Homo sapiens: one gene and its partners. The gene in region 1 interacts genetically with each later gene. Each region holds a gene or a part of one and is shown in the gene's direction. Other genes may lie near its edges.

The links.
Region 2: changes in RPS6KA4 (region 1) and PTPRJ together harm fitness more than expected from each alone (negative genetic interaction), as found in Homo sapiens cells (one large-scale study listed by BioGRID).
Region 3: changes in RPS6KA4 (region 1) and CYP4F12 together harm fitness more than expected from each alone (negative genetic interaction), as found in Homo sapiens cells (one large-scale study listed by BioGRID).

The regions. Positions count from the first base shown.
Region 1 is NC_000011.10:64,357,964-64,362,094, forward strand, and holds the start of RPS6KA4 (ribosomal protein S6 kinase alpha-4), read left to right. Parts: upstream 1-1,198; 5' UTR 1,199-1,272; coding exon 1,273-1,327; intron 1,328-1,414; coding exon 1,415-1,486; intron 1,487-2,199; coding exon 2,200-2,418; intron 2,419-2,513; coding exon 2,514-2,629; intron 2,630-3,170; coding exon 3,171-3,278; intron 3,279-3,505; coding exon 3,506-3,586; intron 3,587-3,678; coding exon 3,679-3,782; intron 3,783-3,888; coding exon 3,889-4,039; intron 4,040-4,131. UniProt on the Homo sapiens protein: Serine/threonine-protein kinase that is required for the mitogen or stress-induced phosphorylation of the transcription factors CREB1 and ATF1 and for the regulation of the transcription factor RELA, and that contributes to gene activation by histone phosphorylation and functions in the regulation of inflammatory genes.
Region 2 is NC_000011.10:48,168,449-48,171,486, forward strand, and holds the end of PTPRJ (receptor-type tyrosine-protein phosphatase eta isoform 1 precursor), read left to right. Parts: 3' UTR 1-2,391; downstream 2,392-3,038. UniProt on the Homo sapiens protein: Tyrosine phosphatase which dephosphorylates or contributes to the dephosphorylation of CTNND1, FLT3, PDGFRB, MET, KDR, LYN, SRC, MAPK1, MAPK3, EGFR, TJP1, OCLN, PIK3R1 and PIK3R2. Plays a role in cell adhesion, migration, proliferation and differentiation.
Region 3 is NC_000019.10:15,679,491-15,683,137, forward strand, and holds part of CYP4F12 (cytochrome P450 4F12), read left to right. Parts: intron 1-753; coding exon 754-807; exon of another isoform or gene 808-901; coding exon 902-1,029; intron 1,030-1,199; exon of another isoform or gene 1,200-2,223; coding exon of another isoform or gene 2,224-2,232; exon of another isoform or gene 2,233-2,619; intron 2,620-2,898; coding exon 2,899-3,020; intron 3,021-3,647. UniProt on the Homo sapiens protein: A cytochrome P450 monooxygenase involved in the metabolism of endogenous polyunsaturated fatty acids (PUFAs).

The DNA.
Region 1 (4,131 bases):
TGGCTCTCTGACCAGGGCCTCTAGCCTGATGCCTGAGAGGCGGGGCAATTCGGCTGGGGTGCAGGATGTGAGTCAGGGTACCTGGGGCCACCCAGGGGAGGGTGGAGCTGCCCAGGGCTGAGATAAGGCAGCCTGAACTTGGGGGGTGCAGAGCTGGGAGGGACGGTCCGTCCGGCCTCCCAGGTGTGACCTGCAGCAGCTTGAGTTCCTCCTCCTCTCAGCCAGGGCTTCACAGGACAGGGGCGTGGGGTGGACACCCTGGCCTCTCCAGCTGGCAGAGGAGCTGAGAGCCCCTCCCACCGGCCTCAGGGTGTGGGGCCTCATGGCTGTCCCACTCTGCTAGGTGGCCCCATTGGTGGTCAGGAAGGGAAAGGCAGGAAGAAGACGGAGCAGGGGCTCAGGAGGACCAGTCAGCAGGGGCCCTGGGCCTCATGGGGAGAGGGGGCAGCCCCGTGTGGCACTGACATCTCTTCTTGAGGCCTGCTCAGGGCTCTAAGCTGGGTACTGCACCAGGCTAGGAGACAACAGGAGCAGAACACGTGAGGTGCGCATGGCACCTGGTGGGCTCTGCACGGTGACTGGGGGCTGAAGTGCTTCTGCAGGCACCCCCGACAGAAAGCTGGTCAGAAAACTGGCCACTCCTCTCCTTGCCATGGGGTCCCAGGCCGGGCTCCAGCCCCCTCTTGGTGATGAGGCTCCTCCTTGCAAAGGCCAGTCCTCTGGGGAGAGGGGCCCTGCTGGCCACCCCCAGGACGATGGAGTGGGGTGGGCTCCACTGCCTGAGAGTTGGGTGACTTCCAGGATCCAGACCCCCTCTCAGCCTGCCCAGCACCAGGCACCTCGTCCCCCACCTTGGGGCACAGACTCCTAATGTCCTCCAGCCACTGGCTGCAGCCGGCATTCCCGGGCAGATTCCTGGCTTGGGGACTAATGCCCCAGAGGCTCCAGGTTACCCACGGGCTCAGGGATGGCTCCCACGGGGTGTTTCCAGTTCCCGGGAGAGTCGAGTAAGGTCCCGGAGCGCACGGCCCTGAGGCCTGGCCTGGGGGCTCGGGAGACAGGGCGGCCCCAGCCGGCCGCCCACCGGCAGCCCGGCGCTGTCACGTTCCAGCCGCCTGACTCAGGCCGCGCAGGGCGGGGAGCCGGGAGGCGGTGCCGGCGCCCGCCTCGGCCCCGGAGGCGGCACCAGGAAGCGCCCGCCCCGGCCGGAGCCGCCATGTAACCGGCGCCGCCCGGAGCCCGAGCCGCGCGGGCCCCAGCGACCCGCCCGCCATGGGGGACGAGGACGACGATGAGAGCTGCGCCGTGGAGCTGCGGATCACAGAAGGTGGGTGTGGGGCCTGACTGCGGCTGCCCGGGGCAGGCCGGGACGGGTCATGGACCGGCTGGGCTCATTCGCCCCCTGTGCCCACAGCCAACCTGACCGGGCACGAGGAGAAGGTGAGCGTGGAGAACTTCGAGCTGCTCAAGGTGCTGGGCACGGGAGGTGAGGACCCCCATCCACCGGGCAGGCGTCCCAGGCGCGGTGCCCCTGACCTCCTGCCTGCTCACTCTTGGGCCTGGGCCAGGCCACTGAGCAGGCCCCCCACCCTTTCCCGGCACAGCCTGCCTTGCCTGCCCCGCCCTGCCTCGCCAGAGTTTGCATGCCCACTTCCAGGGCACTCCACATTGACATCACTCCTCCCTCCACGGTCCTGTGCGTGCATACCCCCCTGGATTTGCCAACACCCTGGGGAGGGGGACTGGCGCCCCTCTCAAGTGATTTGCATAGCTCCTCCCTTTCTTCCAATATGGGATCCCCCTCCCACATTTTGCAAATGCCCCAGCGCTGGTTTGCGCATCCCTTCCCCAGCCAGGTGCACACCTCTGCCTCCCTTCCTTGCACTGGCATCTTTTCACATCCATCTGATCTCTCGCAGGTTTGCATATGCCCCGCCCCCATGCCTCGCAGCAGGCCCCCTGGAGATGCATGCTCCCCAGCCTGGTTTGCACATCCTTTCCCTGGTTTTGCTGGGCACCCTCCCGGGGTGTGCACACCCTTTCCTTAGAAGGCTCTGCCAGCTTTTTGCACACCTGCCTGTTGCCCCAGCTCCTTCGCCTCATTTGCACACCCTCCTGGGTTGGCATCGCCCCCACCCCCCAAGCCTGCACCAATCTCCCGCTCACAGCCCACCCTCCACCCACTCGCTGCTCCCACAGCCTACGGCAAGGTGTTCCTGGTGCGGAAGGCGGGCGGGCACGACGCGGGGAAGCTGTACGCCATGAAGGTGCTGCGCAAGGCGGCGCTGGTGCAGCGCGCCAAGACGCAAGAGCACACGCGCACCGAGCGCTCGGTGCTGGAGCTGGTGCGCCAGGCGCCCTTCCTGGTCACGCTGCACTACGCTTTCCAGACGGATGCCAAGCTGCACCTCATCCTGGGTGAGCGCACACCACATCCCAACGGGGTTGGGGTGGCTGGGGGCAGGCGAGGCCACCTGACGGGGCTGCTTCCTGACTTCCACTGCACCTCCCAGACTATGTGAGCGGCGGGGAGATGTTCACCCACCTCTACCAGCGCCAGTACTTCAAGGAGGCTGAGGTGCGCGTGTATGGGGGTGAGATCGTGCTGGCCCTGGAACACCTGCACAAGGTGGGTGAAGACCTGGCCGCAGGCTGTTGCTATGGAAACTGGGTCTGTGCCTTGGAAGGAATCTGCACGCAGGGCAGCCTCAGGCTTCCCCCTGGGCTTCCTGGGGGGCCAGTGGTGAGCTGGGTGGGAATTGGAGCTGCTTCCCCTGGACCCCTTGCAGGAAGCCTCAACGTTGCCTGGTGGGGTCCCCTCCCCTGGCACCTCCTCGAAGGGGCTTTCCTCTTTCAGGGAACTCGGGGCTGCGTTCACAGAACTTCCTCAAATGGAAACCTCACGGCCTGGCTCCTAAGGCCTCCTTGAAATGGAGCTCTTCACACAGACTTTCCTCTCTCTGGGACCTTGGGGCCTGATCCACGGGGCCCTCCTTCTTTGTTTTATATCTTAAATGGCCTTTCTTATTCAGTGGCTCTGCCCTGGAGACCCCCTCTACAGGCAGATGACTTTCTCTGGGGGGTCTCCTTATCCTGAGCAGGGCCAGGAGCTGGAGGAGCTGGGGAGGGTTTCGGGGAGGAAGCCTCAGCACCCCTCTTGCTCCTACCAGCTCGGCATCATTTACCGAGACCTGAAACTGGAGAATGTGCTGCTGGACTCCGAGGGCCACATTGTCCTCACGGACTTCGGGCTGAGCAAGGAGTTCCTGACGGAGGAGGTGAGTGGAGGCCACCTCTGCCTGCAGTGCCCCATTCAATCCTTCTCCTTCCTGCCTCTTCCTGCTCTGGGCCTGCATTCTGGGGCTGCAGAAGTGAATAGCTCCAAGAAGTTTCCACAGCTCAGCTCTCCAACCTCACAAGTTGAGCGAGTCTTACTCTGGGCCTTGTGGGGCACTGGGGCACAGGAGAGGTTTCGACATCTAAGCAGGACCTCTTGCCCTCCCAGAAAGAGCGGACCTTCTCCTTCTGTGGCACCATCGAGTACATGGCCCCCGAAATCATCCGTAGCAAGACGGGGCATGGCAAGGTAGGTTGGCAGGGAAGTGGGGCTGGGGGAGGTGGAAAGGTGGGGTGTGAGGCAGGGGAGATGCAGGCCCTCACCCCGGCTCCACCCGGCAGGCTGTGGACTGGTGGAGCCTGGGCATCTTGCTCTTCGAGCTGCTGACGGGGGCCTCGCCCTTCACCCTGGAGGGCGAGAGGAACACGCAGGCTGAGGTGTCTCGGTGAGTAGGGCTGGACGTGGAGGGCGGCCAGAGGGCTGCAGGGCCTGCCTGGGCAGGGCTGTGGGTGGGGGGCTTGCTGCCCCTGACACCCCCCCAATCCTCCCAGACGGATCCTGAAGTGCTCCCCTCCCTTCCCCCCTCGGATCGGGCCCGTGGCGCAGGACCTGCTGCAGCGGCTGCTTTGTAAGGATCCTAAGAAGCGATTGGGCGCGGGGCCCCAGGGGGCACAAGAAGTCCGGAACCATCCCTTCTTCCAGGTGAGGCTGACTCAGGGCCCCATACCTCCTGGTGCATACCCAGGTGGGGCTGCTGTTCCAGGTTGAGGTTGTGCCTGGCCAGTTTCACTTTA
Region 2 (3,038 bases), about 16 Mb from region 1:
AATTCAGTGTCAGATTAATCCCTCCTTCCCCAAAGTCCACTGGCTTTCGTCTCTCTCTGCCGTGACACATATCGGAATCTACTGTGTATATATATATATATATATATATATATATATATATATATATATATATACACTAAGCTCTCAAAAACAGTCATTCCTATGAATTGAGGTGTACAAAGTTTGAATTTGTATCAAAGATGTAATTATTATTTTTAAAACCTTTTCACTATACTGCTGCTGTAATTACTTTGATTTTTAAAATGTAGATTAATTTTTTTTTTTTTGCTTCAGGTGTGTATCCACCAAGAATTTCAAATTTATGTGGATTTATTTTATTGGTACATAATCTGTAAACTTCTTAAGGCATTAACATGAAAAGATTTTTTCTTTTTATTTTATATTGTGGCTCAGGTTATATTTTGAAGATGTTTTGAGTTTATCCTCCAATAGGCAATGAAGTTGACAAGGTTTTATGAAGGAATAACCAAGTCCCTGGAGTCCTGTGGCTGTTGCCACAGTAATGTGTCCTGCTGTAAACAGGACAGGTGTGTCCTGTTGAGAATGTGAGCGGGCTCTTCCAGCCTCCTGGTCCCTCCTGACTCTGCCACGCCCCTCACCTCACTGGCACTTCGATAACTGACTGGACGTGTTAATGGGTCTTTTAGGGTTCTAAAGGGTGAACCACACTTTTAAAGCCCCGGCTGTGGTTCGGAGGGTTAGTGCTGTATGCCTTTTATTTCCCTTTCCCTTTGAGGTACTGAAAGGATGAAAAGGTGGTGTCATGTTTTGGGGAGAATCTTACTTCTCAAATGGAAATTGCACTTTTTGCTGAATCCTTTGCATTTTTTTGGTAGTAAGCAGTTCATTGAGTATCAGGTCCTCAAAGGAATGAGTTGGCCCGGCTAGGGTGGGCCCTCTTGACCTAACTTCAGAGGGGGCCTTGGCTCAGTAGGTGTGAATCAGGGAAGCCACATTGTCCTCAGGGTGCTGTATGAAGCTGGGTGTGGGCGGATTCCTCCCACACCTTCACACTGGCCTGCCTCCAACTCATACAGATCTCGGAGCGGTCGGTACTTCATTCATAGGTCCCTGTTCAGGCAGCAGTTCTGTGGGCTGTGGCCCTCTCCCCTCCAATATGTCCGAAACCATTGTGATGGGTGGCAAATCCCAGGGAGCTCCTAAGCCCTGCTCTGCCCACATCACTGCCACAGAGAAGTCAGAGGAAGGGACTTGTTGCTAAAAAATCCTTTAAAAGGTTAAATACTTTAAAAGATTAAAGCAACATAACTGTAAACATATTGTATAAAAATGAAAAACACAGGAACCCTCTTCCCTTCCGCCTGGTGTGGGCTTGGGAAATGGGCAAGCGGCCCCAGCAATCATGGGAGGAACTCTTGCGGGGGAGCGGTCTGGGATTCCAAATGGGCAGGTCACACGAAGGTCACGATGCTTCTCTGCATCCTGAAAAGGGCTGGGGACAGGGCCAGTGGGGGTGGTAAGGGTATTTATAGCACAGTGCTTGAAAAGGGAAGATTAATGTGTAAATATAAAGGACACACAGGCTGGGGGTTGGTCAGAGGCAAGAGGAGGGTGCCTCTGAGCTTCAACCCCTCCCAGGAACAATGAGCTCAAATTGGAAGAGTCCAGTGGAATCGGGGGGATGGTGTGAGCACCCCTGTTCAGTCTTTGACAATTGCATACAGAAAAGCAGCTGGTATGGGTTTGGGTGTCAATGAAAGGGCCAAAGACTGGTGGCCAGCTGGTTTGGGGGATTTGGGCCATTGATAGCATCTCCCAGGAACAACGACTTTTTGCCTCCAAAGTTGGATCTAGTGATGATCAGCACCAGCAGGAAATGACATTTGGTGTCTGCCCACTGCAGCCATACTGTGACCTCCAGCCAGACTTCCGCCTAATTGACTCCACTGGATTTGTGCTCTGTTGAGTCAGAGGCTCCCGGGGGTTGGGGATCGAGGGGCGGGGGTCAGCTATGCAGCCCATCACGTGTGTTTTTCATCTGGGATGAAAAAGCCTGGTTCTCTTTTGAAATGCTTGATTGTACTTATTGAGCTAAACAAGTCTTGGTGACTGTTGTTGATTTGCCTCAAAAGTTTTAAGTCCTGGGTTTTCAGACTACTGTGTAGCAGCTGTGTGTTTAACATACTGTAGCTTTTTCTCCCTTGGGGGCACATACAAATAGGATGTGTTGATGTGGACTCTAAACTGTAATTTTCCTGTAACTATTTTGGAATGATGCATATTTCTAATGTTTGTTATACTTGTACAGAGTATTGCTGTTGGTTGCTTTTTTTTTTTTTAAGGAAAAAATGGCCTGAAAACATTTTTTTAAAGACTTACAAATACCAAATATAAAAAAATGTCAATGCATTATGCCTTTGCTTCTTTCTTTCTTCTTTTTTCCTTCTTACAATGTGCCAAGCAGTTTACTGGCCTGCATTTTACTTGGGCATCCTTAACAAAAACACATTTCTCTTTGGGATTTCCGGATTGTTTTAGTTTTCTAGGGCTGTTGTAACAAGTACCACCAACTGGTGGTTTAAACAGCAGAGATTTACTTCCTACAATTTTGGTGGCTGAAATCCAGATGTGGGCAGGGTTGGTTTCCTGTGAGGCCTTTTTTTTTTTTCTTTTTTTGAGACAGAGTCTCACTCTGTTGCTCAGAGTGGAGTGCAGAGGCGTGATCTCAGCTCACTGCAACCTCTGCCTCCTGGGTTCAAGCAGTTCTCCTGCCCCAGCCTTCAGGCGCCTCTCTTCGTAGCTTGCAGATGGCTGTCTTCTCCCCATGCCTCCACATGGTCTTCCCTCTGCTTGTCTGTGTCCTAATCTCCTTCTTTTTTTTTTTTTTTTGAGATGGAGCCTTGTTCTGTCGCCCAGGCTGGAGTGCAGTGGCATGATCTTGGCTCACTGCAACCTCTGCTTCTCGGGCTCAAGCGATTCTCCTGCCTCAACCTCCCGAGTAGTTGGGACTACAGGTGCCTGCCACCACACCCAGCTAATTTTTTTGTATTTTTAAT
Region 3 (3,647 bases), on another chromosome or scaffold:
CAATATTATACCTGGTTATATCTTTTCTGTTTAACCTGGGATCATATGGAGAAGTCATCATGTGTGTGGCTCAGCTGTGGTCGAGGACACTTGGGGCATGTCAGAGACTTTCTGGTTCTTCTCTGACATGTGATTTGAAATTGTCTTTTCTCCTCCTTGTCATCTCTTGGCCATGTTTGTAGCTTGTCCAAGGTCTGGGAGCTAGGGTCTCTTTGGAATTGTCAGAGTTATTATTTTAGTCTCCCTGAGCCAGGTTTCGGAATCCATTCTAATCACGCTTGAAGAAAACTCTTGGTTCCACCTGGGACATGTCTGGGACATTTAAGAAATCACATTTAAACCCTATCTGGGGCCTGTCTGTGGGGTACACAGAGGTCATGTCAGACTATCTCAGGTCCATGTCAGGAGATGACAGAGAGTGCTATGGCAGACAGGGTGTCCGAGGTCCTTTAAAGGTATTTTGTAGAGTGTGGAGCTGTGTTCAGTTGTTGCAGAACATGTTGGGATATATAGGAGCCATGTCAAGGCGTGCTGGGGTGTGCTATGACCTGTTAGGTTGTGTCATAGCTTTACTGTGCTGTTGCAGCCTGGGCTGGTCCTTCTTCCTCTATCCTCCCTTCGTCCTTTGCCCTTGGCCCCCTTCCTGCTATGCTGGGCATGGAGTGGGGAAAGTGCTGGTAGGCAGCCTTGCCCTATACCTGAAGTTCCTCTCTTGCCCTCTACATGGCCCCTGATGGTCCTCGTTCATGTCAGCTGCCATTGCACCCAAGGATAATCTCTTCATCAGGTTCCTGAAGCCCTGGCTGGGTGAGTACCTGCAGGTGAAAGGGGTTGGGGACAACCTTGCGGGGAGGGTAGGGGAAGTGCTGCTCTTGCCCACTGTCCTTGGCTGCCCTACTAGGAGAAGGGATACTGCTGAGTGGCGGTGACAAGTGGAGCCGCCACCGTCGGATGCTGACGCCCGCCTTCCATTTCAACATCCTGAAGTCCTATATAACGATCTTCAACAAGAGTGCAAACATCATGCTTGTGAGTCCCTTGAAGTCTGGGTCCCAGATGGAGTCTTGGGGTGGAGGGACCATGGACACATCTGGTCTGGAATTTTGGCTCTTCTGGGTGGCACTGGGCCATTGCTCTTCCTCTCTGAGCCTTGGTTTCCTCATCTGTAAAATGGGGATGATAATCCCTACTTGAAAGGTCATTTACTTGGCACACAGTAGGTTCTCAGAAGGTGTCAGTTTCTGTGTTTTTCTCACAGAATCCCTGTAAACTCAAGAGAGTAAAAATGAAGATTGTGTAGTAGTCATTGCTGATTATAAACCACTTCAGAACTCATTGGCTTAGAGCCATAAGGGTTTACAATTGCTAACGAGTCTGTGAGACAGCTGGCCAGTTCTTCTGGATGTGGAAGGGATCACTCTTGGCACATGAGCAGCTGTGGGTCGGGGGGCAGCTTTGCTGATCCTGGCTCAGTTCATTCACGTTTGGGGCTTCAGTACCTTCAGACTCATCTGGGATGGGCTCAGCTGTGACACCTGGACTTTCCCCCATGTGATTCTCTGCCTCCAGAAGGCACCCTGTTGTTCACATGGCAGAGACTGGGCTCCGAGAAACTGAGAGGAGGCTGCAATGTCTGTGGACATTGTCTCTGCAATACTTCAAAGTTCAACCAGGTTTGAGTCTATTAGAGTTATTACATCATCATTTCACCACATTGTACTGGCCAAAGAAAGTCGAAAGTCAAAAGTCCAGTACAGACTCAAAGGGGTGTAAAATAGAACGCATCTCTTAATGGGAGTTGCTGAAAAATTACTGTGGAAAGGGTACGAATACAGGGAGAAGTGAAGAATTGGGGGTCAGGATTTTGTGAAGTGTCTAGGATTTGTTTTAAATATGCAAACTGATAAGTTAGCTTGTTACTGTCTCATGCATTCTAACAGATTCCTGGGTCAGAGACAAAGGGTAGTTGATTACTCATGGCACAATAAGCAACATGTACTTCTTGTTGGTTTGTATCCTTTTTCTGAGTCAACCTAAATTCCATGGGGGTGACACTGGTGGGCCTCTACATTAGCCTGCTCATGCAGTACATTGCATGACATACAATGGGCATTAGGCTTAGGGAATCTACTTTAATAGTGGCAGAAACAAGCCTGATATTGGTCCAGGAGGAGTCATTGCCTTATCTCTCCAGGTGGTTATCTGCAAATACAACTCTGAGAAATGGCTCAGGTAAGAACATCACAGTCTTGCATTGGTGGCATACGCAGCAAGGATGCTCAGGGCTGATGAAGAAGTGCCTCTTCCAACACAGGGATATTTTTGAAATGAATTTATTACAATGGAGATGAATAAAGCAAACATTTACTCATCATATGCCTGAGAAAATGTCATGTCCCAATGCCAGGATATAAGTTGTCTAAGTTAATTTTAATAATCCTGTGAGGTTATGGTTATTTTTGTCCTATTGCAGATGATGAACTGAGGGCCAGAGAGATTAGGGAGCTGGACAGAGTTCAACCAGCCAGGAAGTGAGCTAGGACTGGTGGAGCAGAGATTCTATCCTGGTTTATCTGGCCCCAAAGCAGATCACCTTGACCGTTATTGAATATTTGACAGGTGGGACCTAGAGGAGGGCAATATGTTGACCAAGGGCACATAGAGCATAGGAGACAGAGCTGAGACTTGAATGCAGGTCTCTTGACTCCAAGCCATGGGTCTTCATCTCCTATACTAACAGTTTCTGCTCGCATCCCAGTCTGGTCCTCGCTGGCAATGGGTTCCTGGGGCAGAGGACCAGGAGGCTGGTTGTGGGGGAGTCCATCCTGATGTTTGGGACTGGGGAGGGGCACAAAGGAGGCAGGGCCCAGCTCTAGCTCTCTTCCCTTCTCTGGCCAGGACAAGTGGCAGCACCTGGCCTCAGAGGGCAGCAGTCGTCTGGACATGTTTGAGCACATCAGCCTCATGACCTTGGACAGTCTACAGAAATGCATCTTCAGCTTTGACAGCCATTGTCAGGAGTGAGTTCCTTCCTAGGGCCTGGGATATGAATCCATGGACCAAAGGGAGAAAGTTGGGGAGGGAGGAATGAGCAAAGTAACCAGAAGTACCTTTCGGGAGGATTTGTATCATAGCTGTGCTTTGAAGGTCGAGGAAGAGGAGAAAGTGCTGTCTTTCCAGGTAGAAATATGTGTGTAAAAGCAAGAAGGTTAGGATGAGCCAAGCATGTGCAAGAGACAGTAGAAATGAGGTTGTGGAAGTAGGGGCTAGATATTAAGGGCACTGAAAATCAGGAAAAGTGGTATGAAGTTTATCAAGACATTTCCAGAGACCTTTTGTAGTTTCAGCTGATGATGGATGTGATAAGAGCTGAGCTGTGTGGGAAACTGATAGCCCACCACCACGCCCAGCTAATTTCTGTATTTTCAGTAGAGAGGGGGTTCACCATGTTGTCCAGGCTGGTCTCAAATTCCTGACCTCAGGTGATGTGCCCTCTTTGGCCTCAGAAAATGTTGGGATTACAGGCATGAGCCACTGTGCCCAGCTGCTTCTTCTTTCTTACAGGGTGAAAGAGAGAGGGAGAGAGAGAGAGACAGAGAGACAGAGAGAGAGAGAGAGAAAGAGAGAGAGAGTTGGTTATGCTGGGG